6 separate regions of the Homo sapiens genome follow, and regions 1, 2, 3, 4 and 5 are each reported to be linked to region 6. Evidence: microRNA targets listed by miRTarBase, many of them from high-throughput screens and not tested one by one. Region 6 holds a microRNA gene; each other region holds the end of a gene's coding sequence.

Evidence for each region. Region 6 holds the annotated microRNA hsa-miR-149-3p (AGGGAGGGACGGGGGCUGUGC, at 1,827-1,847, opposite strand). A microRNA usually pairs through its seed, bases 2 to 8, with sites in the 3' UTR of a target mRNA and lowers its output. Matches are read on the target gene's strand: a 7mer-m8 pairs with bases 2 to 8, a 7mer-A1 pairs with bases 2 to 7 and ends in A, and an 8mer does both.
Region 1: the mRNA of ZNF503 is a reported target of hsa-miR-149-3p. Seed matches in the 3' UTR shown: 8mer at 4,328-4,335.
Region 2: miRTarBase lists ZNF790 as a target of hsa-miR-149-3p. The part of its 3' UTR that is shown has no 7-base or 8-base seed match.
Region 3: miRTarBase lists RASD1 as a target of hsa-miR-149-3p. Seed matches in the 3' UTR shown: 7mer-m8 at 932-938 and 8mer at 1,276-1,283.
Region 4: the mRNA of TMPPE is a reported target of hsa-miR-149-3p. Seed matches in the 3' UTR shown: 7mer-A1 at 3,800-3,806.
Region 5: miRTarBase lists CCDC80 as a target of hsa-miR-149-3p. Seed matches in the 3' UTR shown: 7mer-A1 at 2,517-2,523 and 7mer-A1 at 4,213-4,219.

The regions. Positions count from the first base shown.
Region 1 is chr10:75,393,972-75,399,042 of GRCh38, forward strand. ZNF503 (zinc finger protein 503) reads right to left here. Exons shown (of 2, transcript NM_032772.6): 2 at 3,859-5,071. The coding sequence ends at 4,778. LOC124902461 reads left to right here. Exons shown (of 1, transcript XM_047426122.1): 1 at 1-4,286. The coding sequence starts at 2,185. The coding sequence ends at 3,150. Among named protein-coding and RNA genes, the nearest start is that of ZNF503-AS2, 5.0 kb to the right of the region's middle.
Region 2 is chr19:36,813,952-36,819,022 of GRCh38, forward strand. It overlaps ZNF790 (zinc finger protein 790), which reads right to left. Exons shown (of 5, transcript NM_206894.4): 5 at 3,477-5,071. The coding sequence ends at 4,482. The region is part of intron 3 of ZNF790-AS1 (ZNF790 antisense RNA 1); the gene reads left to right. Among named protein-coding and RNA genes, the nearest start is that of ZNF790-AS1, 19 kb to the left of the region's middle.
Region 3 is chr17:17,490,880-17,495,950 of GRCh38, reverse strand. It overlaps RASD1 (ras related dexamethasone induced 1), which reads left to right. Exons shown (of 2, transcript NM_016084.5): 1 at 1-55; 2 at 267-1,514. The coding sequence ends at 826. It overlaps MED9 (mediator complex subunit 9), which reads right to left. Exons shown (of 2, transcript NM_018019.3): 2 at 2,730-4,672. The coding sequence ends at 4,456. Among named protein-coding and RNA genes, the nearest start is that of RASD1, 3.0 kb to the left of the region's middle.
Region 4 is chr3:33,088,129-33,093,186 of GRCh38, forward strand. TMPPE (transmembrane protein with metallophosphoesterase domain) reads right to left here. Exons shown (of 2, transcript NM_001039770.3): 2 at 2,294-5,058. The coding sequence ends at 4,706. All of the region lies in intron 1 of GLB1 (galactosidase beta 1), which reads right to left. Among named protein-coding and RNA genes, the nearest start is that of GLB1, 6.5 kb to the right of the region's middle.
Region 5 is chr3:112,600,736-112,605,806 of GRCh38, reverse strand. CCDC80 (coiled-coil domain containing 80) reads left to right here. Exons shown (of 8, transcript NM_199511.3): 8 at 44-5,071. The coding sequence ends at 390. Among named protein-coding and RNA genes, the nearest start is that of CCDC80, 38 kb to the left of the region's middle. RefSeq lists an enhancer at 1,750-1,919.
Region 6 is chr2:240,452,832-240,457,902 of GRCh38, reverse strand. MIR149 (microRNA 149) reads right to left here and starts at 1,902; the gene lies at 1,814-1,902. The region is part of intron 1 of GPC1 (glypican 1); the gene reads right to left. GPC1-AS1 (GPC1 antisense RNA 1) reads left to right here and starts at 1,203. Exons shown (of 3, transcript NR_161169.1): 1 at 1,203-1,306. RefSeq lists an enhancer at 1,952-2,602.

The DNA of each region.
Region 1 (5,071 bases), not on the chromosome of region 6:
ACCCTCCTCTAGCTGGAACAGCATCTCTGGCTCCCAGGCACTGTTCTGCTTTAAAACTTCATCAGGCAAGAGCAGCCAAGGTGAGAATCCCTGCTTATAGCCATCTCTCACTAGCTGTGTACCTCAAGCCACTGTCTTTCCGCTGCTGAGCCTCAGTCTCCTCATCTGAAAAACGAGGTGAAGATTCTTTTAAGTTCAGGGGTACAAGTGCAGGTTTGTTACATGGGTAAACTTGTGTCATGGAGGTGTGTTGTACAGATTATTTCATCATCCAGGTATTAAGTCTAGTAATGGGGTGAAGATTCTAATGACCTCATGGAACTGTTGTGAAGTGTAAGTGGGATGATACAGGATCCCATGGGCTGGGCATAGCCCGTGACAGATGTGAGCAGGTCAGCCTGGGTTTTCCAGTCACTCTAAGCACCACCAGGCTGCTAGCCACATTCGGTGAGGAACCCTAAGCCAATACGTGCAGCAGAGGCCAGCCGATGACCTGACAGGGGATAAGTCCCACCTTCTGGGCAACTTTTACGAGTCTTCTGTGTAAGTACTGTGTGCTAACCGATTGCGCTGCTGGAGCTGCAGCCTTATGAGTTTTCTAAATCACAAGAAGTTCATCACCTAGTGGGGCTTTTTTATCTGCCTTTCCTCACTGCTTAAAGACCAAGCCCACATCTTTCCTTCTCCTGTCTGCTGTCGGAGCATAAGTGTGTGCCACACGTGACCAGGTGTGGCAGAGTCAGAGCAGGGGGTGGCTTCTGTGGAAGTAGGAGTGAAAGTGTGGAAACAAGTGAGTGCGTGTGTTGACAGGCATCTGCATTTGTGTTAGTTGTGCTTACTCAGAGGTCCACAGGCTTGTGGCAGATTTCAGAAGCTGGTCCTTCTTCAGCAGCTCTCTCGGAGGCACACCTCCCTGATCTGCATCTATGCGGAGTTACCCAGCACAAGGACACCAGGGTCGCTGTGTCACCACCAGAGGCACAGGTAGGGGGATAAGATTGGATGGTGGGGGAAAGGCCTGGGCCTTATCCGCCAGCCCTGCCACTGGCCTCCAGGACTTAGCCTCGGTTTCTCAAACTGTGTCAGGGACGAGTAAATGGGATGAGCAGCCCTTGGCAAGGAGTGGGCGCTAGGAAATCATCAGTGAAGGAGGGAGTGAATGAATGCAGGCCTGTGTGGCGACTGCTTCAGCATGGCAGACAAGGTGACGTATCAGAGCCTTGAGGGTGGGAGCTCCCCAGGTTGGGAAGGGACAGACACGTGGGCCAATCCTCTGGACAGGAATAGAGAACGAGGAGGAAACAAGCGCAGAAGCTGGAGCGGGTGGAGAAGAGCAGGGGAGACGGTTCGCAGCAGGAGAAAAGAAGCGAGGAGTCACAGGGAGGGGCCTCCTGGACACCGCTCCCAAAGCCACGCGAAAGTGGAAGCGCGGGGCCTCGGGATGCCCATCCAGCCGGCTGCCCGCGCGCTGGCCGGGGTTCCAGGACTCCTTCCTGCTCCGCCGGGCTCTGCAGCGCCGCCTGGTGGACACGCGGCGCTCCGCCCGGGCTCCAGCCGCCAGCCGGCGCGCCGGGGATCCCGCGGCTGTTCGGGAAAAAGCTGGAGAGAGTCGGGGGGCGCGCCTTGGGGAGGGGCATTTGTCCCTCCGAGGAGGCTCGCACCTCGGCCTGGACACGCAGCAGATACTGGCACCCACCCTTCACTTACCGCGCGCCCGGGGTGACTCGGATCCGTCCAACACGTCGGGGAATCCTTTCTGTCCTCACCCCCGGGCGCCCCAGCGCCGGAACGCTGCTGCCTCTGTGTAGCTGCTCCCGGAAGGAGTTTCATCAAACTTTTAAGGGGCTTTGGTTTTGGGTTGTGTTGATAAAATACCAAGAAGGGGCATGAAGGCACGAACGTCCCGGGTTCGTCTCCCTGCTGGTCCCAAGCCTGAATCCCAGGGCGGGGGAATGTCTAGGTCCTTCCGGGCCGGCAAGGTGTGGTCGCTCAGGGACCCCTGTCCGAAGACGCTAGGGAAAAGAGGCACAGCCTGTGGGTCGCAGTGGCCAGGAGCGCGTGGCCGCTGCTGGTGAGAGAGTGGTAGACGCCTGGCTTTCAGGTCCTGAGCTGCGGGCACCGGAGCGTGGGACCCCGGCTGCAGCACCGCCACGCGCTCCCGCCCTCCCACCTGCAGGGCGGGGGATGTCTGTCCAAGAGGCCGGGGCGACAAGCCCGCCGGCCAGGATTCTCAAGGAACCAGGCCCAGCTCAGCCTCTCTCGGCGGGACCAGAGTGGGACCGGGGCCGCGGCGTCCGAAGACGCTGCGGGCCAGGGGTCCTCCTCGGCGCCAGCTCCGTTTCCTGGGGTCTCGCGACGTCCGGACATCAGGGTCGGGGGTGTGGAGACGGCGGCGGAGCCAGAGTCCCCACCAAGTCAGTTCCAGGAGGCGGCCCGCGCGCTTCCCGCAGTGTCCGGGAGGTCGCTGGGGGTGGCTTTGCGTGCAACCCGGGTAAAGGCCCTGCAGCCGTGAGGCTGGCGCTGGGAGGAGGGTGGAAAATCTCAAAGTCACCAATCCCGGTGCAAATGGCGGCAGGGGCCGCGGGCTGTCGGACGCAGGCGAGAGGCCAAAGGCTGACTTCGCGCGGCCGTGAGTCCCCAGAGGCAACAGGGGTACCTGAGCGCCGAGGGGATCCCGAGACTCGGAGAAACCGGAAGAGCCTGACCCCAGGGAGCGGAGAGTTTGGGGTGCGCTCTCAGAGCTGTGACTCCACGGTCCCGGAATCCTTGGAAAGGGCGCTCTGGGCTCAGAGCTCCCAACTAGCCGGAGGACCTGGGCTAGCGCCCAGGCCTGGAGCGTCTGGGAGGGGGCGCTGGGTCTCGGCCCCCCTCCCCCCAAAAGGGACTGAGACTTTTTTCTGCGTGCTTCCTTCGGCGCTTCGGGCAGCTCTGTCCTGCGGCCCAAGCTGGGGAGAAGACAGCGGCCCGCGCCACAGGGAGCTGCGCCCGGACCCAGACTCCCGCCGCGCTTCTGCAGAGCGGAGCCCTAGGTGCCCACCTGGTAGCCCCAGAAAGGCCGGACCTGGGCGCCGGGACGCTCGCGGGGCCGCACTTGGAGGGGCTTTCCGGGTCCTGGCCGGGCGGGCTCTCCTGCGGCGCGGAATGGAATAGAGCGCCGGCTGCAGAGCCACCCGGACGGGGAAAAGCAGCGGTGGCGCCGGCCAGCCCCGGGTCCCGACTCTGGAGGGAGGAAGGAGCGGGCGGGTGGGGGTGGGGGTGAGGGCGAGGGTTGCGGGGAGCGTTTAGAAGGCCCTGGGCAGCCAGAAGAAGAAAAGAGGACGCACTCTCCCCTAGGGACCAGAGGGTCCCTGCGTACTCCCCCCAGGCCCGGGACACAGGTTCCCCCAGCGCCCCTCCGCCTCCCAGTCTATTCGGCTTGCCCCAGCGCGCTGCCCCACGTCCCCGAGGCCCCGGCCCAGGCCCAGCCGGCGAGTCCCGGCCTGCTCCACTCTGCACAAAACGAAACCCAAATGCCCAAAAAGCTCAGGAGGGAAATTTAACAAAAACCCTGTCCCCCGCCCCACACCCCCTTTCACTTTTAACAAGCCAGCTGCCAAGAGAAAATTGAAATAAAAACGAAATGATAGATAGCGGAGGACACTATTTTCCAAATGGTGAAATATCCTCTAAAAATATGTTCCCCAAGGCCAACTTCGCGGCTGGTAGCCCCTTCCGACGCCTTTGCCTCCCAGAAAATCACAACAAAGCGATCGGAAATTCAGCCACGGTCCCGGGAAGAAGGAGTAGCAGTGAGGCCCCGGAACCCACTGCGGCCGAAACTGCCATGCTCTCTTTAACCAAAATAAAAAAGATAAGAAGAAGAAGTAAAACCCTTTAATACATCAAATATACGGAATTTTAATCTTTAAAGCGATACATTGTCTATTATTTTAGTACATGACGTAAACCTTGTCCCCTTCTCAGCGGGTGGACTTAAAAATTAAAAATAGTTAAGTGTTCCTTTTAAAGAACAAAATAAGGCAAATGAGGTTTTGGAATAGAATTTTTTCTTTTTCTTTTTTTTTTTGTTGTTTTCTTCCAGAATACATACAAAAAAATACCCATTCTCTTCGATGGTATACACCTTAAAAATAATTGCAATTTGAAATCAGAGCTGACAAATTGTGACTTTTTTTTTCATTTTTTTTGTAACAAACATGCATGTAAATTTGTGTTTCAATCAGACATTAAATAACGTACAATACAATCATAGCAATTTTAAAGTAACATTAAAGAGAAGACCTCTAGTTCTGTGGCGGTTTTGCTTTTATTTATAATCTACAAGGGATGGGAGGGTTTGTTTTCCACATTTTTACCCTCAAGTTTTAAAATTTTTCCCACCTCCTTTTTACCTACAGAGCTCAAACTAAATAATGCACTTTTGAACCACCGGTCCGCTTGGAGCTAACATAAATAAATACCAGTGTCCACCGATGCAGTCCTCAGATGAACACTTTCTCAATTATTTTTTCCTTTTTTTTTCTATAAAAAGTCAAATGATATTTTTTCAACTTTTATAAAGTTTGGGTGGGGAGGTGAAAGTGGGGAGAAGGGGAGTGTCCCACCGGGTCTCGGTCGCTGCTGTCGGGTAGATAGATACGGTATACATTTCTTTCCTTTCGTGGCCCGAGTCCTCCCCACGCGCGGGTGTCAGCAGCCTGGGCCGTGATCCCGCCTCTCCCTGGACTCCTCCCCTCCCCCTCTCCCTCCTCTCCCTCGCTCGCCCTCCCGGCCGCCCTCACTGATACCCCAGCGCCGAGGCGGTGGTCAGTCTCTGTCCGTAGAGGGCGTAGGGGGAGTAGTACGGTCCGGTGGCGGCGGGCACCGGCACGGGGGCGCCAGGCGTGGGAAGCGGGCTCTTGGAGTAGGGGTGGTAGCGGCTGCTGAGTCCCAGCGCGTGGTGGGGGCTGCGCAGCGCCAGCGTCCCAGGGCTGCCCGGTGCGCCCGAGGTGGGGATGTGCATGTGGCAAGCCATGGCGGCCGCGGCAGCGCTGGCCAGAGACGACGAGCTGGGGTAGCCCGACAGCAGTTT
Region 2 (5,071 bases), not on the chromosome of region 6:
AAATTTTTTATTTTATTTTATTTTTTAATTTTTATTTATTTTTTTGAACTGGAGTCTCGCTCTGTCGCCCAGGCTGGAGTGCAGTGGTGCGATCTCAGCTCACTGCAACCTCTGTCTCCCGGGTTCAAGTGATTCTCCTGCCTCAGCCTCCTGAGTAGCTGGGATTACAGACCTGGCGGGTTTTTTTTTTTGGTATTTTTAGTAGAGACGGGGTTTCACCATGTTGATCAGGCTGGTCTCGAACTCCTGACCTCAGGTGATCCACCCGCCTCAGCCTCCCGAAGTGCTGGAATTACAGGCTCGAGCCACCGCACCCAGCTGATGCCTAGTAATTTTTTATTTTCCACTTTGGCTACTGGGAAAAGGAATTATTCCTGGACGTTTTTGAGCTCTGTGGATTCTTCCCTCTAATCCTTTAAGGTAATTGTTTTTCCCTGGCTTCAGGTAGTTTTCACACACGCACGTGTTGATGAATATTTAGCTGAACTTAAAGGAAGATCCTCTGGAGATTTCCGTGCAGTTCTCTCCTCTTCAGTGTTTTGCCTTGTCAACTCGGGCCACTTTGGCCTCATCAGACTCCTCATTCTATCTAAACACTAGGAGACCACCAGGCTCTGCCTGAGTTACTCCTCCCAGCAGTAATCTGGAAAAACTAGGAAAAATTTATTTCTGTTTTTTTCAGGGATCACTGTTCTTCATTGGAAATTGACATTTTAGTATATTCAATGTCTTAAAAACCATTGTTTCACCTATTTCGTTTAGCTTTTTAGTATTTACAGATATAAGGGTAAATCTGGTCTGTTTCTCCATTTGATCAGAAGCAGACATCTGTTCATTCTGTTACTGGTGACTTTCAGTTAACAGAATAATAAAATTAATATGAATATGCCACACTTTTCTAGTTAAAATGTTTTGTCTAGGAAATATTCTTTACTGTGAGGTTATAAAATGATTCTCAGATAAAAACAAGGTAAAATCAAAGGTGACTACTTTCCAACCTTGCTCTCTCCCACCTATAGTTTGTATTTTAATTTTTCTTAAGAGACAGGGGTTTTGCTATGTTGCCCAGGTTGGACTTGAACTCCTATGCTCGAGGGATCCTCCTACCATGTCCTCCCAAGTAGCTGGGATTACAGGCGTGCACCACCACACCCTGCTCCCACCTATTATTTCATCATTTTGATTAGGTCTTGGCTTATCCTTCCACTGTTTTTGAAAGTATAAACATAGCTGGGTGCGGTGGTTCACGCCTGTAATCCCAGCACTTTGGGAGGCTGAGGCGGGCAGATCACGAGGTCAAGAGATCGAGATCATCCTGGCCAACATGGGGAAACCCCATCTCTACTAAAAATACAAAAACTAGCTGGGCATGGTGGCGCATGCCTGTAGTCCCAGCCTCTCGGGAGGCTGAGGCAGGAGAATCTCTTGAACCCGGGAGGCGGAGGTTGCAGTGAGCCAAGATTGTGCAAGCGCACTCCAGCCTGGCAACAGAGTGAAACTCCATCTCAGTGTACTTGTCACCTTAAAAAAGATCTAGTCAACATGAATGAAAATGGCTTATTACAATACAGTTACATAACAAAAAATTATTTTTCACACAAATTGTGAAATTCCATAGATGACAATAATTTAGGAGGGAACTACCTGTTAAAGGTGTGACTTACAAAATGTGCTAAATATGTGTACATATAGTCACCATTTCTTAACTCATGTAACACTAAAAGATACCAAGAACTTCACTTAGAAGAAATTGATAAAGTAACTTTTCATCATTCAGAATTACCCATCCAGGCTGGTCACGGTGGCTCACACCTGTAATCCTGGCACTTTGGGAGGCTGAGGTGGGCGGATCACCTGAGGTCGGGAGCTCGAGACCAGCCTGGCCAACATGGTGAAACCCCATCTCTATTGAAAATACAAAAATTAGCCAGGCATGGTGGAGGGTGCCTGTAATCCCAGGTACTCGGGAGGCTGATGCAGGAGAATCATTTGAACCTGGCAGGCAGAGATTGTAATGAGCCAAGATCACCCCACTGCACTCCAGCCTGGGCAACTAGAGTGAGACTCCACCTCAAAAATAAAAATTATCCATCCTGCTCAGAGCTTAAACATTATAAGCAAATATCTACTATATTATTCTTTGATTAAATATTGGGTTCATCTATGTAAGTTTTTTTCATGTATCTTCATGAGTGAAATTTTTCTGGAATTTGATGTTCAAGAGCTATCCCATCTACTTTTATTATAAAAATGTTAGTCTTTTAGCATGCCCTGGCAAATTTTCCATAGGATTTTCTATTCTTCAGGGTGTAGCCTGTACAGTTTTCTAGTCTTACATGTTTGTTTTGTTTTGTTTTAGACAGGGTCTTGCTCCATCACCGACTGCAGTGCAGTGGGGTGATCACAGCTTACTGCAGCCTCAAACTCCTGGGCCCAAGCAGTCCTCTCACCTCAGCCTCCTGAGTAGCTGGGACCAGAGGCATGTGCCACCACACCTGGCTAATTTATTTTTTGCAGAGATGGGGGTCTCCCTATGTTGTCCAGGCAAGTCTGGAACTCCTGGTTCAAGTGATACTCCTGTCTCAACCTCCCAGAGTGTTTGGATTACAGGCATGAGCCACTGTGCTCAACCTCATCTTACATGATACTTTTTTCTATTTTTTGAACTTTTTGGGTTGTTTTTGAAACTTAATCATATTTAATAATGTTTTCCTAGAAAAAAACCGTACACATATAAAAATCATGTCTAACAGAGTTCACATACTTAATACTAAAAAATATCTCCAAACATATAGTTATATTCCATTTCTCCTTATAATATAGTAGAGGCACTGACAAAGTCTAATGAATAATAGTTTTCTTCAAAGGACTAGATTTTGATGAAAAACCTGTATGGTTTTTTATTCCATGATTTCAGCTTTTCATTAAGCCTTTCCATTCATTCATTTGGGGTATTTGTTCTTATTCTACCTTGCTGTGTAATCATTATTTAACTCAATAAATATTTGAGGCCCTACAACATTATAGGCACTGTCCTAAGTGCTGTGGATACAGTGCTGTGGATACAGTGATGAAGAGAAACAAACTGCCCTCAGTCTTCTTGGTTTTATACACAGAGCAATTTCTATTGATAACTGTTTTAGTTATTTCACAGGATTTAAAATATAGGTCTCATTATCATTCTAAATACTCTGTAATTTCACTTTTTATTTGCTCTTTAATCTAAGAATGGTTTATATATAGTAGTAAATTTCAAAGAGGTAAGAATCCATATGGCTATCCATTTGCTAGTTTCTGAGTTATAACTGTGGTAAAGAATTATATAACACTTGGCTTTAGAAATTTGTTAGAGAGAAGTTATTTCTGAATGTCTTTTAAAAAACTGCTGAACACTCAACAACCCCACTTTTACTAAAGTCATAAGGCTTTCTTTTATAGGTTTTTTTGATGTAGCATGTGAAATTAATATTCAAAGCTTTCTTCATTGTATTTTACTGATTTTTTTTCAGAATTAACATTCTGATGTTCAGTAAGACATAAATAGAGATGACATATTTGTCTATAATCATTATAGTCTTAAAAGTCCTCCTCTCATAAAATGGCTTAATACCAATACAAATGACAGTCACTAAGTCATGTAAATCTCAAATCATTCAACCCTTATAATCTAATGAATACGATTAAACAGACATAGATTTAAGATACTTTCCAAAAAAAAAAAATAGAGGCAGGATGTATTGAAACAAGACATGCCAAATAAATTGTATGACATAGTTCAAGGCTTTTCTAGATTAATTACATGATTTTTGTGGAAATACAACAGAATTTTGCTAATGATGAAAGATTTCCAAAATGAATTATATATAAATTCTTGTGGGTTTTTGTTTTTGAGATGGAGTCTTGTTCTATCACCCAGGCTGGAGTGCAGTGATGTGATCTTGGCTCACTGCAACCTCCACCTCCCAGGTTCAAGGAATTCTCATGCCTCGGCCTCCCGAGTAGCTGGGACTACAGGCGTGTGCTACCACGCCCGGCTAATTTTTGTATATTTAGTAGAGACAGGGTTTCACCATGTTGGTCAGGCTGGTCTCGAACCCCTGACCTCAGGTGATCCACCCACCTCTGTTTCCCAAAGTGCTAGGATAACAGGTGTGAGCCACCATGCTTGGCCAAATTATATATAAATTCTTTATGCAACATCTCTGATGAGAATGTTTTGAGAATGATTCAAAAAGAATTCATGCTATCTCATAAAATTTTACCCTGATATTCTGCAATTGATAACTGATCAGTAATTTCTTTCCTATATTGATTGCATGATGAATTCTCTGCTGCTGCTGCTGCTGCTGCTGCTGGATGTGTGCTCTGTTAAAATGCCTTCCAATATTACTTACATTTGTGGTGTTCCTCAAGAGAAAAAAATAAATGACATCAATTAATGAGTCATGAATAAAGCCCTTCCTACACTTTTATATAATATTTCACAAGAGTGAAATGAAGTGAGAGCTTGAAGAAAATGCTTTCTCAAAATCTTTAAATTCATAGGATTTCTCAAAAGTGTAAATATTCTGGTGTTGAGCAAAGTTTGACTCATGACTAAAGGTGTTCCCATAGTCTGTCCATTCACAGAGATTTGCACTATTATGAATTTTTTGTTCAGTAAAATATGAATGGTGACTAAAGATGTGGCTACTTTTCTTGCATCCATAAGGTTCTGCATCAGTATGAATTTTCTTATGTCGTGTAAGCTGTGAACCCCAGATAAAAGATTTCCCACATTCTTTACATACGTAAGGTTCCTCACCAGTATGCATTCTCTGATGTCGAGTAAGTTGTGAACCCCAGAGAAAGGCTTTTCCACATTCTTCACATTCATATGGCCTCTTTCCAGTATGAATTTTCTGGTGTCGATTAAGTTCTGAACCACGAAAAAAGGTCTTTCCACATTCCTTACATTCATAGTTTCTCTCACCAGTATGAATTTTCTGATGTCGATTAAACTCTGAGCCATGAAGAAAGGTCTTTCCACATTCCTTACATTCATAGGATTTCCTCTCATTGTGAATTTTCT
Region 3 (5,071 bases), not on the chromosome of region 6:
GACACGTCCGGCAACCACCCGTTCCCCGCCATGCGGCGCCTCTCCATCCTCACAGGTGAGCCGGGGGCCGGGCAGGTGCGGGAGGGAAGGGCGGGGAACCCTCGGCCAGGGCGCCCCGCGAGCGCCGGTCCGGCTGCCGCGCGCCGAGTAGTGCGCTTCGCGCTTAGAGAGGCTAGCGCGCCCCGCGCGGCCTCAAAGTCAGCCCGACTTGTCCCCTGGGCGGCCACCCTCACCTTCTCCTTTTCTGCTCTCTGTGCCCCCTCTAGGAGACGTTTTCATCCTGGTGTTCAGTCTGGACAACCGCGACTCCTTCGAGGAGGTGCAGCGGCTCAGGCAGCAGATCCTCGACACCAAGTCTTGCCTCAAGAACAAAACCAAGGAGAACGTGGACGTGCCCCTGGTCATCTGCGGCAACAAGGGTGACCGCGACTTCTACCGCGAGGTGGACCAGCGCGAGATCGAGCAGCTGGTGGGCGACGACCCCCAGCGCTGCGCCTACTTCGAGATCTCGGCCAAGAAGAACAGCAGCCTGGACCAGATGTTCCGCGCGCTCTTCGCCATGGCCAAGCTGCCCAGCGAGATGAGCCCAGACCTGCACCGCAAGGTCTCGGTGCAGTACTGCGACGTGCTGCACAAGAAGGCGCTGCGGAACAAGAAGCTGCTGCGGGCCGGCAGCGGCGGCGGCGGCGGCGACCCGGGCGACGCCTTTGGCATCGTGGCACCCTTCGCGCGCCGGCCCAGCGTACACAGCGACCTCATGTACATCCGCGAGAAGGCCAGCGCCGGCAGCCAGGCCAAGGACAAGGAGCGCTGCGTCATCAGCTAGGAGCCCCGCCGCGCTGGCGACACAACCTAAGGAGGACCTTTTTGTTAAGTCAAATCCAACGGCCCGGTGCGCCCCAGGCCGGGAGCGCGCGCGGACTGGCGTCTCCCCTCCCGGCGATCCGCCCCCAGCACTGGGGAGGCGCCACTGAACCGAGAAGGGACGGTCATCTGCTCCGGAAGGAAAGAGAACGGGCCAAGACTGGGACTATTCCCCACCCCCGGTCCCCCATTGAGGCCCGCCACCCCCATAACTTTGGGAGCGAGGGCCCAGCCGAGGGTGGATTTATCTTCTCAAAGACCTAAGAGTGAGCGCGGGGTGGGGGAGGGATGTGAAGTTATCCAGCCTCTGCTAGGCTTCAAGAAACCGTCATGCCCGCTTGAGGGTCAGGACCCACGGGGCATTATCTTGTCTGTGATTCCGGGTTGCTGTGACAGCCGGTAGAGCCTCTGCCCTCCCAAAACTAAGCGGGGGGGCGTGGGTCAAATCATAGCCAAGTGACTTGTTTACATGTGAGTGAAACTGCACAAAGGAACACAAAACAAAACTTGCACTTTAACGGTAGTTCCGGTGTCAACATGGACACGAACAAAACCTTACCCAGGTGTTTATACTGTGTGTGTCTGAGGTCTTTAAAGTTATTGCTTTATTTGGTTTTTTAATATACAATAAAATAATTTAAAATGGAAAACCGGTTTTTTTTTTTTTTTTTTTGCTTTTAGAGATGGCTGGAGTGGGGAAGGGTGGGGAGAAGGAAAGGGCTGGGCTTTGACTTAGGTGGAACTAGAACTTACCTTCCCCAGAACTGGAAAATAACCCTGGCCTTCTGAAGGCAGCTTCAGCTGCCAGAAAAGCCCCAGATGCCTGGGGCATCTATGTAGGGGATGGTTCCCTAGAAAACCGGGAAGAATATAAAGGATTTCAGGGTCCCCCCTGGAGATGAACTCTTTCTAGCCATCCACCCGCTTAATTTTCTTTGGGTTAGATGACAAAAGGCCTCATTTTCTGAGAGAATGTTCTGAATTCTTCAGCGTAAAAGCCACTGGAACTGTGCCTAACCATTTTGTCACCAGACTCAGTGTGGGCCCAGGCAAACTTTCGGACTGTTGGAGGCATCAGTCAGGCCCTGGGGAAAGAGCCTGAGACCCCATCTGGAAACAGGACCATCCTGGCGCGCCCCCACCACCCGCTCACTCCAGGGTGCCACCCTGTCTGGAAACAGCTAACTCCTCAGCCTCTGCTCCCCTCTAGCTCCAGGAAGTGCTCCTGGCCAGGTGTAGAGCCCCATCCCCCTTCAGCCTTGCTGTCTCCGTCTCATGGCTAAGGCACCCCAGAACACCAATCTCTCTGCCACTAGTACTGCAAACCTGTTGGTGGGTGACACCTGCCAAGCCTCTAATTCTTCACCCCGGGAAGAGAGAACACCCTCGGCATGGGCTCACTGTGGGGATTAAGTGTGATGTTTGAAAAGTACTTAGCATAAATGCCGGCCACCCAGTAATCCAAGTAATTGGTGGCTTTCAGAGGACGCTCAGCCCTGTGAGAGACACTCAAAATTGTCCTAGAAGGATTTCAACCCTGCTCTGGTGAGGGCGGCTCCCCACAGGACTGAACCTCCTCGAGTCACCAAAAGGCACCCCCCACCTCCCCCCTCCAAAAATAAAAGGCAACTAAGGACAGCCCAGGGATGACCCGCCAGGCAAACTGCCCTTGAGGCCAGCCGGGAGAGGAGTTCCTGTTCCACACTGGTTCAGCGGGTGTGTGTGCTGGGGCGGGTGTGTGTGCTGGGGCGGAGGGAGTGAGGAGCAGAGGTGTGGTTGTGTCTGAAGAGACTGAGAGAAACATTTTCCTCTCAACTATCTGAGAGCCATCCCACTATGAATTTCTCAGTACAAAAAGCATTATGTCCTGAGACAGCAGAGCATAAGTCCTTTTAATTATGTGTTTGAAAAATGTCACAAGTCAAAAAAGGAACACAAGGCAGGCTCCGGCTCCCTCCACCCCCGTGAGGAGCCCTTGTCCATTTCAGCCTTGCACTCAGAAAGACCCCGGGGGTCTTGTAGTTCCACGTGCTTCATGTTTCGTGGTATCTGTCAGAGCCTTAAAACAGGCCCACCCACTACTGTGAAATTTCAAGGAAATAACTGATTCAGTTAAATAACAGTCCCAAGGTAGACCTGGTCTCACAGGTGACCACCCGCTTAAATCCAGAGCCTTCTTTTCTGTCCAAAGCCACTGAAATTTGATCTCCTCCTTCACACATTCCCAGGTCCCCAATATGCCACCCACCTTCTGACAGGTGGCTACAGGTCTACACTAATGGAAGCTCTGCTAAAAACATCTCCACCCAACCCTCCTGCCAACGAGGTCAGCTGGCAGGCATCTGCTAAGCCCCTAAACTGGTCAGCGCAGGTTATGCGCCCATTCCGAGACCCAAACAATACTCCAGGACTTCGCACCTCCTCCTCGAGAGGCAACGGAGAGAACTGCTCTTACTTCAATCTGACAGTCAAGGGAGAGCACACAAATAAAACGTCCCATCTGGAAGAAATCAGGGAAGCTGGGGAAATGAGGCTGTTCATCAACTTTTAAGAGCTCAAACTTGGCTGTGTAACTTTCAGACCTAGCTTATGGTTGGGGACCACCTGAACTGGCCCCCAGGGTTGCCTCTCTCTCAACACAAGGTGCATACTGAACCCTTCTGCAGTGTAGTACACGTTGCTGCCGCAAGTGCAAAGGCCACGAGGGAAAGACCTTTTAACCAGAGCAAGGGGAATCTGAAATGCCAGAAGGGGGAAGGTCGGTTCGCCTGAAGACCTCTTCTGGCCTGTGTGGAAAGGACGGCCCCTTGTCAACCCTGGGGAAGCACTGCAGATGTGAAGCGGTTTGGCCACTCTTGGGCACTGACTGAGGGTGATGAACGAGGAAGGGAGCAAGAGCTGAAGGCGAGGAGAGCGCTAGGAGGCAGGGAACCTGGAGCCAGGGGCTGCCTGGCAGGGCTCTAGGCTGAAGCCCCCAAAGCGTAGTTCCCTTCACTGGCTCAAACATAAAAGGAACCAAACTGTTTGGGGAAAAAGGCCACCCTCTGGCCTTTCAAAACATTCTCTCACAATTCTATGCCATATGAGTGCAGGCTTAATTCGTCCAGTGAATTCTATGCAAATGTTTCAAGAAGCTGCTGTTAACAGGAACAATGTGTACCTGGTACACACTGATCCTATGGGGGTGGGAGGAGAGAGAGGGAAGGAAGCAAAGAGGAGCCGCCTCCCTTCCTACTGTGCTCTTCAGATCTGTCAGTGGGGCCGGGCGCAGCAGATGGCCCCCTCCCCAGAGGCAGGGGAGAGTCCTCCACCCCCTCTGCAGCCTCCAGGAGCATTCTGACTTCCACCAGCAGGCACTCCAGTTATTATGCATCTAGACATATGGATCTACACGAGGAACCCCCGGCGCAGCCAAGCTCTGCGCTGGCTCCCGCACAGGCGAAGCGCGCGCAGCAGCACAGGAGCCCCGCCCCTGCAGCTTGACGAGCTGAGCTGGGGTCCACAGGAACCACGCCCCAAGGAGCGTTTGGGGATGGTAGTGGGGAGACAGGCCATTGGCTTCCCCCTCTTTCTAAGGAAGTCAGCCTCACTCTACTCCTTGGGGATTTCGAACATGCAGAGGCTCTTGTACTTTTGCAGAAGCTCATTCTTGGTCCTGACTTGCTCCCGGAGGCTCTGCAGCTGCTGCTGCTGCTGTTCGGGGCTCAGGTGGATGCCGGGCATGGTGCTGATGAGCTTGCGCATCTCCTGGAACTTGCTTTTGAGGGCGTTCAGGTCCTGGTGGACCTCCGGGCTGTCCTTGTCCATGCTGTGGGGGAAGAACAGCTGTTAGCATTCACAGCTTGATACACGTCTTGGCGTTCCTGCCCTGCACCCCCTAGAGCTGGCTGTCATTCCTGCCATAGCTTTTAGAACACTTCGTTTTATGTGTCTATCCCCTGACTAGGCTGTCCACCCCCAGAGGGCAGGGACGGGTTCTTTTTTAGGCAGCTGGCACAGAGCTCCCAGGCCTAGCACACTTGCAGATCACACACAGACACTCTTGATCTTCTGTCAAGTCAACTGTCACTCTGAGGTCAAGGACCATGTCTGCCTGGTCACAGGTGTCTCCCTACCCCCGGCCCAGTGTGTAGGTCACTACAGGCACTCAAGAAATGTCCGTGGAAAGAATGAATGCTTAGCAAATAAGCTCATGAACATGTTGGTT
Region 4 (5,058 bases), not on the chromosome of region 6:
CCACATGTGAAGAGCCCATAGCTAACATCATATTCAATAGTGAAAGACTGCAAGCTTTTCCTCTAAGATCAGGAAAAAGGCAAGATGTCTGTTTTTGCCACTTCTACTCAACATAGTTTTGGAAGTCCTAGTCAGAGCAACTAGGCAAGAAAGAAATAAAAGGCATTCAAATTAGAAAGGAGAAGTAAAATGATCGATTCACAGATGATATAATCTTAGATGTAGGAAACCCTAAAGACTACACACACACACACACACACACACACACACACACACACACACAAACTGTTAGAACTAATAAATGAATTCAGCAAAGTTGCAGGATACAAAAAGCAACATACCAAAATCAGTTGCTTCTCTATACACTAAAAATGAACAATCCTAAATGGAATTTCAAAAAATTCCATATATAAAAGCATCAAAAAGAATAAAATACTTAGAAATAGGCCTAACTAAGGTGAAAGACTACACTGAAAACTACAAAACACTGTTAAAAAGAAATTAAAGAAGACACAAACAAATGGAAAAAACATCCTATGTTCATGGAGTGGAAGGTTCATATTGTTAAGATGTTCATACTACCCAAAGTGATTCACAGATTCAACACAATCCCTATAAAAATCCCAATAGCATTTCTTGCAGAAATAGAAAAATTTATCCTAAAATTCATATGGAATCTCAACAGACACCAAATAGACTAAAGTCTTGAAAAAGAAGAGCAAAGTTGAAAGACTCATACCTCCTGATTTCAAAACATATTGCAAAGCTGTGGTAATCAGAATAGCATGGTAATGACATAAAGACAGACATAGAGCAATGAGAGGATAGAACACCAAGAAACAAACTCTTGTGTATATGGTCAAATGATTTTCAACAAAGATGCCAAGATCTCTTGATGTTAGAAAAGGACAATTTCTTCAGAAAACAGTGCTGGGAAAACTGGATATTCACAGGCAAGAGAATGAAGTTGGACCCTTATCTTATACCATACACAAAAATTAATTCAATATGGGTTAAAGACCTAAACGTAAGACCCAAAACTATAACACTCCTAGAAGAAAACATGGGGAAAAAAGCTACGTGATATTGAACTTGGCAATGATTTCTTGGATATGATGCCAAAATAAAAGCAAAAATAGAGAAATGGGCCTGCATTAAACTTTAAAACTCTGTGCATCAAAGGTCACAATCAGTGAAAAGGCAATGTACAGAACTGAAGAAAATATCTGCAAATTACGTATCTGATAAGGGGTTAATGTCCAGAATATATAAAGAACTCCTACATCTCCACAACAATAAATTAAATAACCTGATTTAAAGATAGGCAAAGGACTTGAATAGACATTTCTCCAAAGAAGGTATACAGGTGGCCAACAAGCCCATGAAAACATGCTCAACATGGATAAACAAAATGTGGCATGAAAATACAAGAGTATTACTGTAGTCCAGCCTTAAAAAGGACAGAAATCCAGTCACGTGCCACAACCTTAAGGTCATTATACTAACTGAAATAAGCCCGCCACAAAAAGACAAAAACTGCATGATTTCACTTATACGAGGTATCTAAAGCAGTCAAATTCATAGAAACAGAAAGTAGAATTGTGGTCACCAGGGGCTGGAGGAAGGGGGAAATGGAGCCTTGTTGCTCAATGGGTATATAGATTTGCAAGATGAAAAAGTTCTACAGATCAATTAGATCAATTTCACAACAATGTGAATATACCTAACACTGTTGAACTATTCACTTAAAAATGGTTAAGATCAACAACAACAAAAAGAACAAAAAAAATGGTTAAGATAGTAATTTTTTTGCCACAATAAAAAATATAGTTGAGATAATCAGGAAAAACTAAACACTAACTCTTCACACAGTTAACTGCATTTGAATTCTGTACTCATTTGTGACAGATACAGCTACTTAATACTCAGAGAGTGGAAAGAACACTTCTTTAAAGAGGTCAAAAATCTGGCTACTAGCCCCAAATCTCCTAACTAGCTATTAGATGATATTCAAGAATCACTGTTAATTTCATTGGATATGATAATGACACTATAGCTATGCTTTTTGAAAAAGGATTCATACTGAAGTAATTTTGGGGTAACATTATGTTTTCTATGATTTACCTTAATATACTCCAGCCAAAAAATAAAGAGTACAGGTGGGGCAGGGGTAGCTGAGAAAGGATGGCAGAGTGGTCTCGTCATGCTTGTTAAAGCTGGGAGAGAGGTACATGTACGAAAAGTTTAAAACAAACCAAACAAAACACGAGGGGAAGAAAAGCATGGATGGGTATTTGGAAGGAATGGCAGCAGGATCAATTTATTGAGATTTTGTGACAGCATCATATACTACAGACACTATTGCTGATTTTCAAAAAGCATTGCATTTCAATTTGCATCTAACAGATTAAAAATAAAGAAACAAATGAAATTGAAAGAATGATCAAGCTTCAAGTAACGTTTCTCACCACCTCCCCCGGCCACAAACAAACAAAAAGGTCCATGGTTTAAGAATGTTGAACAAAGGGACTAAAGGTGTCATGGAGACCTGCCCACCAGGGCCAGAATCTGGACAGTGATGGAGAAATTTCTGCTGCAAAAATGTCCGCCGCGTCAGGGAATACAAACCACATACGAGAGGGTGTTGATGTTGTTTCTCAGATACATAGGATGGACCTGTTTTCTTTCTGCTAATAGAAAGCAATCAGTCAAGCAAGGACTTCAGAGTGGATGAAGGGTACATAAGACCACACAATGATGGCATTCAAGAGAAAGAAAAGAGGTAAGGATGCAAAATTAAAAAAAAAATAGGACTTAATGAAAGCTAATTTCATCAAGCCCAGGTCACTGATGAGAAAGATGTAAAATCAAGAAACCAGTGAAATAACACGTAACAGGTGAGTCAAACATTACCAGCCGCATCAAACAGTGGAAGTGAAATGGCACCATCTAGCCCACCTGGTGAAATCCAAAGCGAGAACTTAAAGGGAGTAAGGATGATTCACAAAATGCGGTCGGGACACAAGAAAAGTGAGTTTGGAAGGACAGTGAAGAGAGAAAAAAGAATAAGGAAACCACCAAAATTTCAACTCAAAGATACATTTTAAACTGCATGGTATGGCCCACTGTCAATACCGTGGCTGCCTGGGAACAAAAAGGGTGGTCTCCAGATCCCCCAGAACCCCACTATACACCAGGAGGACAAGGAGGAAAGGAAGAAACCCCCTTTGCCTGCCAGAATGCACATGAGGGAAGGAAGGCAAACCCCTAGCAGTTGCTGCTTTGACACATCACCTGCCCCAGCAGCAGGCAGCTCGCTACCCACTCACATTCCCCAGGACTGGCTGCTCCATGAATCCTCTGGGCACCTGTGCCCAACAGAGTTCCTTAGCAAGCTCCACTGGAACGTTGAAAAATTAACATTGAGTGTTTACTGTGCACGCTGTGCCATGTGGAACTCATGCACAAGGCTTGATGGATCCCTCCTGACAAAACAATCTTGAGGTAGATACGATAATTATCCCCATTTTAGGGTTGATGGAAACCAAGGCTGAGTGAGGGAAAGTCACCCACCCAACGCTGCCCTATGAGTGAGCAGCAGGGTTAGCCTCTCCAGTCAGAGCGAGTGTCTTCACTCCCCATTGGAGGAAGACTTTCCATCACAAGCCTAAATCACCCAGCAGGAAACCAGCCCAGCCCTGTCTTCTCAGTGAGGCCTTTTCTAACACGGGTGCTTATCTCCATCTCAGGATCAAAGGATCTATTGCTTCTGGCAAAAGGGCAAAAGCACCGCTTTTACTGGGAGGTACAAGACCTGGTTTCTAGCCCCAAATCTCCTACATATCTTGTCATACTGCCTGTGCCCTATCTCTCTTTGCCTTGGTTTCCTTATCTCCAAATAGGGAAAAGCAGCCTGTCCCCAGTGAGCTCCCCGAAGGGTTGTATAAAATGAGACAAGGGAGGCAAAGCCCTCTGAATTCCTAAGCAGCCATGTTCTCACCATCACCGACCATGGCGCCCACCGTTCTTCTCCCCTGACCTTGCCCCCAAAGGCCCAGGAGCACAGACAGTTAAATAGCATCCCTCAAGGCCTGGAACAGGAGGAGCTTTGCATTCCAGTAGATTTTGCTGATGCCCTCAATAGAGGTGATCCTGATAGAATCAGAGGAAAAGAAAATATTCTTCTCTAGCAGCCAGAGGGCCCTTCCATCTTGCCTGTTCTCCCAAATTACCTGGCAACACTACCCCTTCCCCAGAAAGGCTCTGGATCAATGATTCTGGAAACCACTTAAGTCCTAAAGACAATTTTAAAACACCAGGAGAAAAATGCTCCTGCTCCTCCCCGCCCCACCTTCTAGAGGTATGCCTTTCTAGCAACCCCGAGGGGAGGTTCATCCCTGGGAGCTCTGCAGGAGAAGGTCCCCATTCCACATCATCTGGAAAATAGAGGGGAGTGCTAATATATGTGACCTTAGTGATCTCACAAGTGCATCAAAAAAAGCAACTGGCCAAGGAAATAGTTAAACCAGCCTGAACATGCCAGGCAGGCCCACCATAAGTCACTGTTTGAGTCAGGCTTGTGACCAAGGGTGTGTAGGCAAGGATGAGTGGGCAAGGCTGGAGGGGAAAAGCAGGCAAACCACTCTGAAGCAGGATGGAGGGTCGAGGACAAGGGCAGGGCAGAGGTGCACAGGGCAGGGCCAGTTCAGGGAGACCGCTGCAGGATGAGCTCTGTGATCTCGGCCCTGCTACCCAGCCTCATGGGTATCCCGTAGTAGGCTGTGCCTGGGCTGACATACACGAATGTAGCCTGGGCCACCTGGTAGAGACCAGCAAAGAAGGGATTCAGGAGATAGGCTGCTACGTTCAAGGGGAAGATCTGCCCAGCATGTGTGTGCCCAGAAAGGATCAGGTTAATATCTGGCCGAGCCTGGAGAGCTCTCTTGGCAGCCAGGGGCTGGTGAGCTAGCAAGATGATTGTGTGGTCTGGGCTGCAGCCCTCCAGGGCCTTGTCAAGATCCATGCCATGGCCAGAGTAGTGCAGGATGTCTGCTTCAA
Region 5 (5,071 bases), not on the chromosome of region 6:
ACTGTTTAATCTACTAACAATAACTATTCCAATGTTATTCTAGGGAGCTCTGTTGTTGAGCGAGAAGACGTACCAGCCCATTTGGTGAAAGACATTCGTAACTATTTTCAAGTGAGCCCGGAGTACTTCTCCATGCTTCTAGTCGGAAAAGACGGAAATGTCAAATCCTGGTATCCTTCCCCAATGTGGTCCATGGTGATTGTGTACGATTTAATTGATTCGATGCAACTTCGGAGACAGGAAATGGCGATTCAGCAGTCACTGGGGATGCGCTGCCCAGAAGATGAGTATGCAGGCTATGGTTACCATAGTTACCACCAAGGATACCAGGATGGTTACCAGGATGACTACCGTCATCATGAGAGTTATCACCATGGATACCCTTACTGAGCAGAAATATGTAACCTTAGACTCAGCCAGTTTCCTCTGCAGCTGCTAAAACTACATGTGGCCAGCTCCATTCTTCCACACTGCGTACTACATTTCCTGCCTTTTTCTTTCAGTGTTTTTCTAAGACTAAATAAATAGCAAACTTTCACCTATTCATGAGTTATTATTGAAACCTCAAATCATAAAGACATTTAAAAGAATTGTTTTTCTAACTGGAGGGGCTCTAGTGCTAAATAATAGTACTGAAAATTGATATTATTTTCCTTTTCTTATATGAAGGACCTTATTTGGCATATAAAATTTTATAAAATATGTATTTAAAGCTTTTTCTTATTTTTTGTATTAATTGGTAAGTGAAAACTCTGTTAAAGATCACACCACAATGTTTTCAAGAAACATCTGAAAAGATAAAACAAAGAACAAATAACTTATAATACTTACTTAAATTGACACTTTTTGAAATGCCAGTCTGAAAATAATTAAGATATCTCTGCTTTGTATGAGTTTCTTTTATGAAACTTGATACCACGGGAGTCCAGTAATATTGGCCACAAAAGCCAGAGAAAGTACCAAGCCCAGCTTTGTTATCATAGCCACTTCCTGCCCTGCTTCTGTTATTTTTAGTGTTTTTTCAGATATAAATCGGGGTCCAGGAAATCCTCACCAGAATCTGGCACTGCAGCCAAAGGCGATACTTCCAGAGTTCTAGTAGGCTGCTATGGAATTTCTGGCATGAAAATTCTTGACCCCTCACACTTTACCCCCTGTACAGCACAGGCATACCATGGAGATATTACAGGATCAGTTCCAGACCACCATAATAAAGTGGATATCGCAATAAAGTGAGTCACACAAAATTTTTGGTTTCTCAGTGCATATAAAAGTTATGTTTACACTCTTTAGTAGTCTATTAAGTGTATAATAGCTTTATGTCCAAAAAATGTACATGTTTTATTTTAAAAATACTTTATTGCTAAAAATTGCTAATGATCATAATCTTTTTGCATTGATGTTGATGGCTGCTGAATGATCAGGGTGGTGGTTACTGAAGGTTGGGGGTGATGGTGGCAATTTCTTAAAATAAGACAGCAATGAAGTTTGCCACTTCGATTGACTTTTTCTTCATGAAAGATTTCTCTGCAGCATGTGATGCTGTATGATAGCATTTTACCAGTAGTACAACTTCTTTTGAAATTGGAGCCAATCCTCTCAAACCCTGTTGCTGCTTTATTAATGAAATTTATGTAATGTTGTAAATCCTTTGTTGTCATTTCAATAATGTACATAGCAACTTACGCGAGTAGATTCCATCTCAAGAAATCACTTTCTTCGTTCATTCATAAGAAGCAAGTCTTCATCTATTAAACTTTTGTAATGAGATTGCAGCAATTCAGTCACATCTTCAGGCTCCACTTCTAATTCCAGTTCTCTTGCTATTTCCACTATGTCTATAGCAGAGCTTCCTCCAATGAAGTCTTGGGCCTCTTAAAATCATCCATGAGGGATGGAATCAGTTTCCGAACTCATTGATCTTCCTATTTTGACCTTCTCCCATGAATCACGATGTTCTTAACAGCATCTAGAATGGTGAATCCTTTCCAGGTTTTTAATTTGCTTTGCCCAGATCCATTAGCGGGATCACAATCTGTGACAGTTATAGTCTTACGAAAAGTGCAAATGACTCCTTGATTCCTGTGCTGCACAATAGGTATTGTGTTAGCAGGCACGAAAATATTAATCTCCTTGTATATCTCTATCCAAGTTCTTGGGTGACTGGGTATATTGTCAGTGAACAGCTATATATATATATATTATAGTGGTCTGGAACTGATCATTTATATATATATTTTATATACATATATAAAATATATAATATATATTATATATATATATATTTTTTTCGAGATGGAGTCTCGCTCTGTCACCCAGGCTGGAGTGCAGTGGTGCGATCTTGGCTCACTGCAACCTCTGCCTCCGGGGTTCAAGTGATTCTCCTGCCTCAGACCCCTGAGTAGCTGGATTTACAGGCGCCCACCACTACACCCAGCTTATTTTTGTATTTTTAGTAGAGATGGGGTTTCACCATGTTAGTCAGGGTGGTCTCGAACTACTGACTTTGGCCTCGGCCTCCCAAAGTGCTGGGATTACAGGCATGAGCCACTGCGCCCGGCCCGAACAGCAATATTTTTAAAAGATTCTTTTTTTTTCTGAGCAGTAAGACTCAAAAAGTGAGCTTAAAATGTCCAGTAAACCATGCTGTCCATAGACATGCTGTCATTCAGGCTTTGTTGCTCCATTTATAGAGCACAGGCAGATTAGATTTAGCATAATTCTGAAAAGTCGTAGGATTTGGGGAAATGGTAAATGAGCATTGATTTCAACTTAAAATCACCAGCTGCGTTAACTTCTAACAAGGAGTAAGCCTGTTGGTTGAAGCTTTGAAGTGAGGCATTGACTACTCCTCTCTAGATACGTAAGTCTGAGATGGCATCTTCTTCCAATATAAGGCTGTTTCATCTCTTTTGAAAATCTATTGTTTAGTGTAGCCACTTTCATTAATTATCTTAACTAGATCTTCTGGATAACTTACTGCAGCTTCTACATCAACATTTGCTGCTTTACTTTGCACTTTTATGGATGCACAAGGCTTCTTTTCTTCAAACTCATGAACCAGACTCTGCTACCTTCAAACTTTTTTTCTGAAGCTTCCTCACCTCCCTTTAGCTTTCATAGAATTGAAGAGAGTTAGGGCCTTGCTCTGAACTAGGCTTTGGCTTAAGGGAATTTTGTGGCTGGCTTGATCTTCTATTCAGATGACTCAAAGTTTCTCCATATCAGCAGTAAGGCTGTTTTACTTTTTTATCATTCATGCATTCACAAAGTAGCACTTTTAATTTCCTTCAAGAACTTTTCCTTTGCATTTACAACTTGGTTGTTTGGCATAAGAGGCTTAGCTTTCAGCCTGTCTCAGCTTTTGACACACCTTCCTCACTAAGCTTATTCATTTCTAGCTTTTGATTTAAAGTGAAAGATTGCAACTTCCTCTCACTTGAAATACCTGGAGGCTATTTTAGGGTTATTAATTGATCTACTTTCAATATTGTGTCTCAGGGACTAAGGAGGCCTGAGAAGAAGGAGAAAGATTGGAGAAAGGTTGGTTGTTGGAGCAATCAGAACATACACACATTTATTAAGTTTACTGTGTTATATAAGTGTGGTTCATGGTGCCCCCAGTAATTATAATAGCAACATCAAAGATCGTTGACTACAGATTTTAATAACAGAGATAATAATGAAACAGTGTGAAATATGGCAAGAATTACCAAAATGTGACACAGAGACATAAAGTGAGTACATACTATTGCAAAAATGATGTCAACAGACTTCCTTGATGCAGGGTTGCCACAAACCTTCAATTTGTAAAAAATGCAGTATCTGAGAAGTATAATAAAATAAGATGTGCCTGTACTTACTTGCTAATGGACCTATTACCATACTGGCATCTTATAAAAAAAATTACAAGGAAGGAGATTATATCCAGGGATTCTTTTTGTTTTCAAGGCAAAGGTTACCAAGTTACAATGGACCAAAGTAGCTGGAATGCAAAGGAGTATAATCCTTGTCTTTGAAAAAAGAGCATTTGTTTCAATCATATGGCATATCAAAGTAAACTTTCTCCCTTCCTCCCTCCTTTCGTTGCTGCTGCTTCTTTTTTTTCTCTTTTTTTTTTTCTTTTTTTGGAGAGGGTCTCACTCTGTCACCCAGGCTGCAGTGCAGTAGTGCAATCTTGGCTCACTGCAAACTCAGCTTCCCTCAAACAATCCTCCCACCTCAGCATCCCAAGTTAGCTGGGACCACAGCCATGCTCCACCATGCCCAGCCATCCTTGCTTCTTTACTACATTTCTTTTTTCAACAAATATTTATCAAGTAATATTGTCAAGTAATATTTATGAGCTTCCCCTCAGATAGGCATTTAGCATCATGATGGCACCATCCTCTAACAATAATGGGAAGGCTATTTTCCACTGTTATTAATCATTAATTCTCCAAATCATTTTAGTATTATTATTAATTCTAATAAGTACAGAGATTAATAAATGCATTCAAACCACATGTGAATATTTGCTATAGGTTTATCTGTGCCTACTGTATGTTCAGATTTTTCTTTATATCTGAACTTTGTTATAAATAAATGACAGTAAAAATGGAATTTATAGTTCAATGAACTTGACAAATCACTTATTCTGCCATTCATTTTCCATAAAGACCATTCATTCTTCCTTGTTTTACAGGTAACTGAGCTCCAGAAAGCTCAAGTGACTTTAGAACTCAGTTCTTAGTGTGTGAATTATGCTCCCATCTCATCCCTCTTCCTTGATGGAGCACTTTCCTCCTCATTTTTTCTTGGATAGTCTGTACAAGCTGCCTGAGGTGTGCAGGAAAGTGAGCCACGTCGAAGTGTACTGCTTTTAAATTTTTGCCAGGATGAAGCATAGCCCAAAGTTGCCAATAAAAATGGATTTCTTTACCTTTCTGAAATTGTGTGATGACAATTTCTAAGTAAAGGACCCAAATCATGTCAACTTCAGGAAATATAATAATGAGGGAGCCAGGAGCAGTGAGGGGCTCACACCTGTAATCCCAGCACTTTGGGAGGCCAAGGTGAGCGGGTCGCTTGA
Region 6 (5,071 bases):
AGCAGGAATTCCAGCAACTTTCCTCAGGACTGCCGCCTCAGGGGCCTGTCTCATCCTGTTCTGGGACCCTGGGCCAGGGTGGCTGGAATGCAGCAGGTCCTGCATTCTTTTACGCCCTCCTGAGGGTCAGCAGGAAGTGAAGGCCAGGCCAGGGAGGAGAGGCAGGAGAGGGAGCCAGGACCGGGACCGAGGGCGGGGTCAGCCCGGGCAGAGGCACCTGGCTCGAGGCTGTCCTGGGGGAGCTGGCAGCAGCTCCAGCCCTGCCTGGAGGTGGGAGCAGGGATCTGTAGCCCCACTGCAGGCAGGGCCTGGAGCAGCGCAGGCAGTGCCCTACCCGCTTACTGCAAGAGAAGTCACCCCTCAGGCCTGGGGTCCAGGAAGCCCTTACCCACTAGAGGCCATCTGGGGTGGGGACCCAGGACTAGGTAACTACCCAGAGGTTGAATGCCTGGGTCAGACTGAGTTTGCTGATCTTCCGCACCCTCTAAGTACACACACTCAGGGAGGAGCCCGAGACAAGAGAAGGGAACAGAGAACCCGAATCCGGGCTTGGGCGGCTGCCGCTTGGCCCCTGTAGCCTCTGTGCCTGCTGACATGACAGCAAGGAGACAGGTTGTCAGAGGGGCCTGGGAGAGCGAGGGAGGGCCGAGGTAGGGGTTCTTATCCTGGAGCGCTCCCTCCTTGCCCTCTTTTCCTGTCTGAGTTCTGGAATGTACTGATGCAGGGGGCTCTGGCTTGAGCTAGAGGGGGAGGGAGTCCTCCGCAGGGGCTGCAGGTCCAGGGATTCCCCAGGGCCTGGACTTACATGTGCCCATGCTGCAGACAGAGCGGGAATGGCAAGTGCACCTGCGCCCCCCGCCCCTCCTTACCTCCAGATGCCTGCTGGAGGGGGAGTTGGGGGTCCAACAGAGTCTGGGGCCAGGAGGGCCTTGTGGGAGCCAGCTGGGGTGAGGACAGAGCCCGGCTCTGAGAGCCCTGGGGCCTAGTAGAGAAGGGGTGCTCCTTCCCCACTCCTCACATGGGTGGGAAGGCGCCCTCAGGCAAGAAGACTGGGACACAGGTACACTCGCCAGGGACCATCCTTCACTCTGCAGCCTTTATTCACTGATGGGATTCTGCCCCAGTCCCACCCCCGTGGGGGCAGGATTTAGAGCAGGAACCGCCCCTCCGGGTCCTTTCCTGGGGCCTGTGCCAGGCTGAGCAGACTCAGGAGGCGTCTCTCCGAGGGTGTGGGCTGTGATGGGGCCCTGTGCACCCATCCAGGCTGCCCAGACCAGGAGAGCACAGGTCAGCCGGACACATGATGGTAATGGGCTGGGCAGTGGGAGGGAAACGTGCCTGGGGGAGGGGGTGGCAGGTGCCAGCTGAGCTTCCCGGTGACACACCCTGGGCTCAGCTGAGATGGGCTCAGCTGTGACGGGGCACCCAGGCCAGGCTGGCTGGGCCACAGGAACCGAGTGAGCTGGTCCAAGACTCAGGACTAGGGCTCAAGCACTCCTAGGGAGGAGGGTGGGTGGCGTCCCCCGCCGGCTCCTCCTGTGCCCCTCCCTCGCGAGGTCCCGGCGGACCCACTCCCCAGCCCCCACCACGCAGACGGGAGAGGCTGACGAGAGGCATGGAGAGGTGAGGCCCGAAACACCCGTAAGATATGGGAGCTCCCCCCACCTGCAGGTTCTGAGGGGCTCCTCGGCGCCGTCAGCCACCTCTCACACCCCCTCACGGCCGCGCACCGGCCCCCGCGCCTCAGCCTCCCCCGCCGACCCCTCAGCCCCGCCCGGCCAACTCGCCCAGCCGGCCCGGCGACCTGCGTTGTTCCAGCTGCCCCAGCACAGCCCCCGTCCCTCCCTCCCTCCTCGGACAAGCACGGGAGTGAAGACACGGAGCCAGAGCTCGGGCGCCGGCCTGGGAGCCCCCGGCAGGCTGGACGCAAGGCGGGCGAAGGCCTGGGAGCCTCGGGCAGGCTGGATCGAGGCGGCCCCCTGAGGCCCGCTGCAGGCTGGACGCACGGCAGTCAAAGGCAGGAGGCCTCCCGCTGGCTTCCTTCTGCGGAGCTCCGGCCCGGCGCAGGCCGGGGCCACAGGTTGTGGTCCTGGACATGAGATGGCAGAGGCCGGCTCTGCAGAGTCCCCCTGCAGGGCGGCAAAGCAAGCCCCCTCCTGGAAGAATGCCAGGGGCTGGGGCCTTTCTGAATGGAGAGCAATGTGCCCAAGACCAGCTGTCATCTTAAATCTCCCCACCCAGGGGCCTCCCCACCCCCAGGGGCCTCCCCACCACTTCTCTCAGCTCAACACCTGGGGATAGAGAGGCCTCAGGCCAGGAGGGAACCCTCCCCATGTCCCTCTCCCTCTCCTTCCTGGCCTTTCTCCTCCTCCAACCCAGAGGGAGGCATTTTCCAACCTAGGGGGTGAGTCCCGGCAGCCCATCCCCTTCCCCCCGTGCAGGGAGGCATCTGGGCCCTTCCGGCCCACCCCTCCCTCTGGCCCTGGGGCTGCTCAGGTCAAGGTCACCGGGCCTGCTCCCCGCTGGGCCAGGGACTGGACCCTCTCTTCCCTGATCCCTGGGCTGAAGTTGCTGTAGCCGACCCATCCTTCCACAGCGCTCCCCTCCCTCAGTCACTGGGACACTTCCCTTCCCCAGTGCTCTGAGGATTTTTTTGGGGGGGAAGGGGATTATTTGTTTAATGGCAGATTCATCCCCCACCTCAAACCCAGAGTCTCCAGTTCCCAGGCTCCTGCTCCTCAGGTTAAAGCACAGAGCTCTTGCTCCCTGGCTCGTAGGCAGCTGCTGTCTCGTTCCATCTTCCCCCTCCCGATCCTGACGGTTCTGGACCACCCCACTCTGCTGCTCCTCACTAAGCCCCCACCAGCCTTAACTTTGGATACCTTTTAGGTCATGCATTCTCGTCCCCTGCTGACATGTCCCCACCCCGCAGTTTCCTCTTGGTCATCAGCACCTTCACCCCAAAGCTTTAGGCGAGACTCCCATCCTGACAGTGGCCCCCATCCCCAATGATGGACCCAGACCTCATTTGTCCAGACCCAGCCTGGCAGCTGCCCGTGACCAGTGGCTCTGGAGCCCTCCCAAGGAGAATGCAGAGAGATGATGGCGCCACGCCACGCCCATCCCTCCAGAAGCTTCCACGGCTCACACAGGAGGTGCAGACTGTAAAGCCGGCTTTATCCACCTTTACAGCCTCGTCCTAGACACTCAGTGTCAACAGACTCGAATGCCTAAGGTACCGGAATTTGGCGTGGACAGTCAGCCTGCATTGCCTCCCACGGTGCTGGAGTAGGGCTGTGTGCAGAGCTCCAGGCACCGCAGCCCCCCAACACGCAAGGGAAGAGCCTAGGCCTCCCCGCTCCTGCCCTCTACTCAGCTCTGCACCCGGCAACGGGGCCTTCCTGGCTGGCCGATGGCTGCGAAGGCTTTCCCCAAGCCCGAACCCTCTTCTCGAAGCCTGCCCCAGCCCCTGGCCCATCTGCTCTCGGACCCCAACCAGCTCCGGTGGCTGTGGCATCCTCCGGCACGTCCAGCAGCCTCCTGGGGTGAGGGTGCACTGGACAAACGACCCAGGGGGTTTCCTGGGGACCACCCACTGCCCAGGCTGCAGAGGATCTTTTCCTCACTTTTGCCCCATCCTCTAAGAAGCCTGCGCCCCTGGCCAGTCCCTGTCCGCCTGGGCTCCTGACGTCTGAGCCAGAGGCAGCCTTGGCCCCACCTGCGAGGTGGACCGGCCACGGCATCTCAGCTCCTCGTCAACGGCATCCACGGCCCCCAGACTCACCCCATCGTGCTTCCCTCCCCTCCCCACACCCCTGCCGTCTGCCCGAAGCCCCCCCGCCACCATTTCACCCAAATGACAGCGTCGCCAAGGAGCCCCTCCGCCGCCGCAGAACCTCCGCCGCGCACTGCGACCCGAAACCGAGGGGCGTCGTAGGGACACCTCTGCCCCGGGTGGGAGGGTCCGCGCCCCAGGCCGGCTAAGGCTCCTGTCACCCGCGGCTGCTTGCGAGGGCGACAGGCGTGAAACCGGCCCCGGCGGCGGAACAAAGGCTCGGCGGCACCGGCGGCAGCGTCGCCGCCCTGGGGGTCCCGGGCGCCCCGATGCCAGTCGCCAGCCGCCGCGGCCAGGGACGAAGACGGCAAACCGCGCAGCCGGAGCGGGTGCGCAGGGGTCTGGACACGCAGCAGCGCCGGCGGCCCGGCGAGGAGGGGGCACTGGTGCAGTGGGCGCGGCGGGGAGGGAAGGGGGCGGGCGGGGAGAGGGGGCTGCGGCGGGCAGGCGAGGGGAGGGGGGCGCCGCGATTGGCGGGGAAGGGGCTTGTCGCAGCGGGTGCGGCAGGCACGGGGGTGGGGGAGGGGGCTCGAAGGGCTGCGACGGCCCGGGGAGGGGGATGGGCCTGGCGGAAGAGGAAGGGGGGCCCCGGGGCGGCGGCAGGCGATGCGGGAGCGGGGCGGGCGGAGGGAGCGGGGCGGGCGGAGGGAGCGGGGCGGGCGGAGGGAGCGGGGCGGGCGGAGGGAGCGGGGCGGGCGGAGGGAGCGGGGCGGGCGGTGGGAGCGGGGCGGGCGGTGGGAGCGGGGCGGGCGGTGGGAGCGGGGCGGGGACGCCGGGATGCGGCCCGGGAGGGGTAGGGGTAGGTGCAGCTGGGGCGACGGGTGGGGTGGGACTGGGGACGGGCCACGGACTCCCGACAGGAGGGGCGGAAAGGGGATGGGGCTGCGGCGGCCAAGCGGGGCAGGACGGAGCGGAGGATGGGACAGAGGCGGTGGGGACGAGGAGCGGGTGGAGATGGGGGTGGCGCGCCTGCGGATGCGGGTACGGTGGCGCTGCGGGAGAGGTCCTCGGGCCTGGCTTCCAGCGCGGCGGCGGACGCGGGACCCCCTTCGCAGCGGCGGCTCCAGCGGCTCCGGGCGGCGCGCGGGCTCTGGGTGCAGGTGCTCGGGCCGGGGAAAGGCGGCGGAGCGGGGCCGGGCGGAAGGGCTCGCAGGAGGCGAAAAGCCAGCGGGGGACGAGGGCGGGCTGCGGTCCGCCGGGCGCGCGGGAGACTCTGGCCGCAGCCACCCCGGGCAG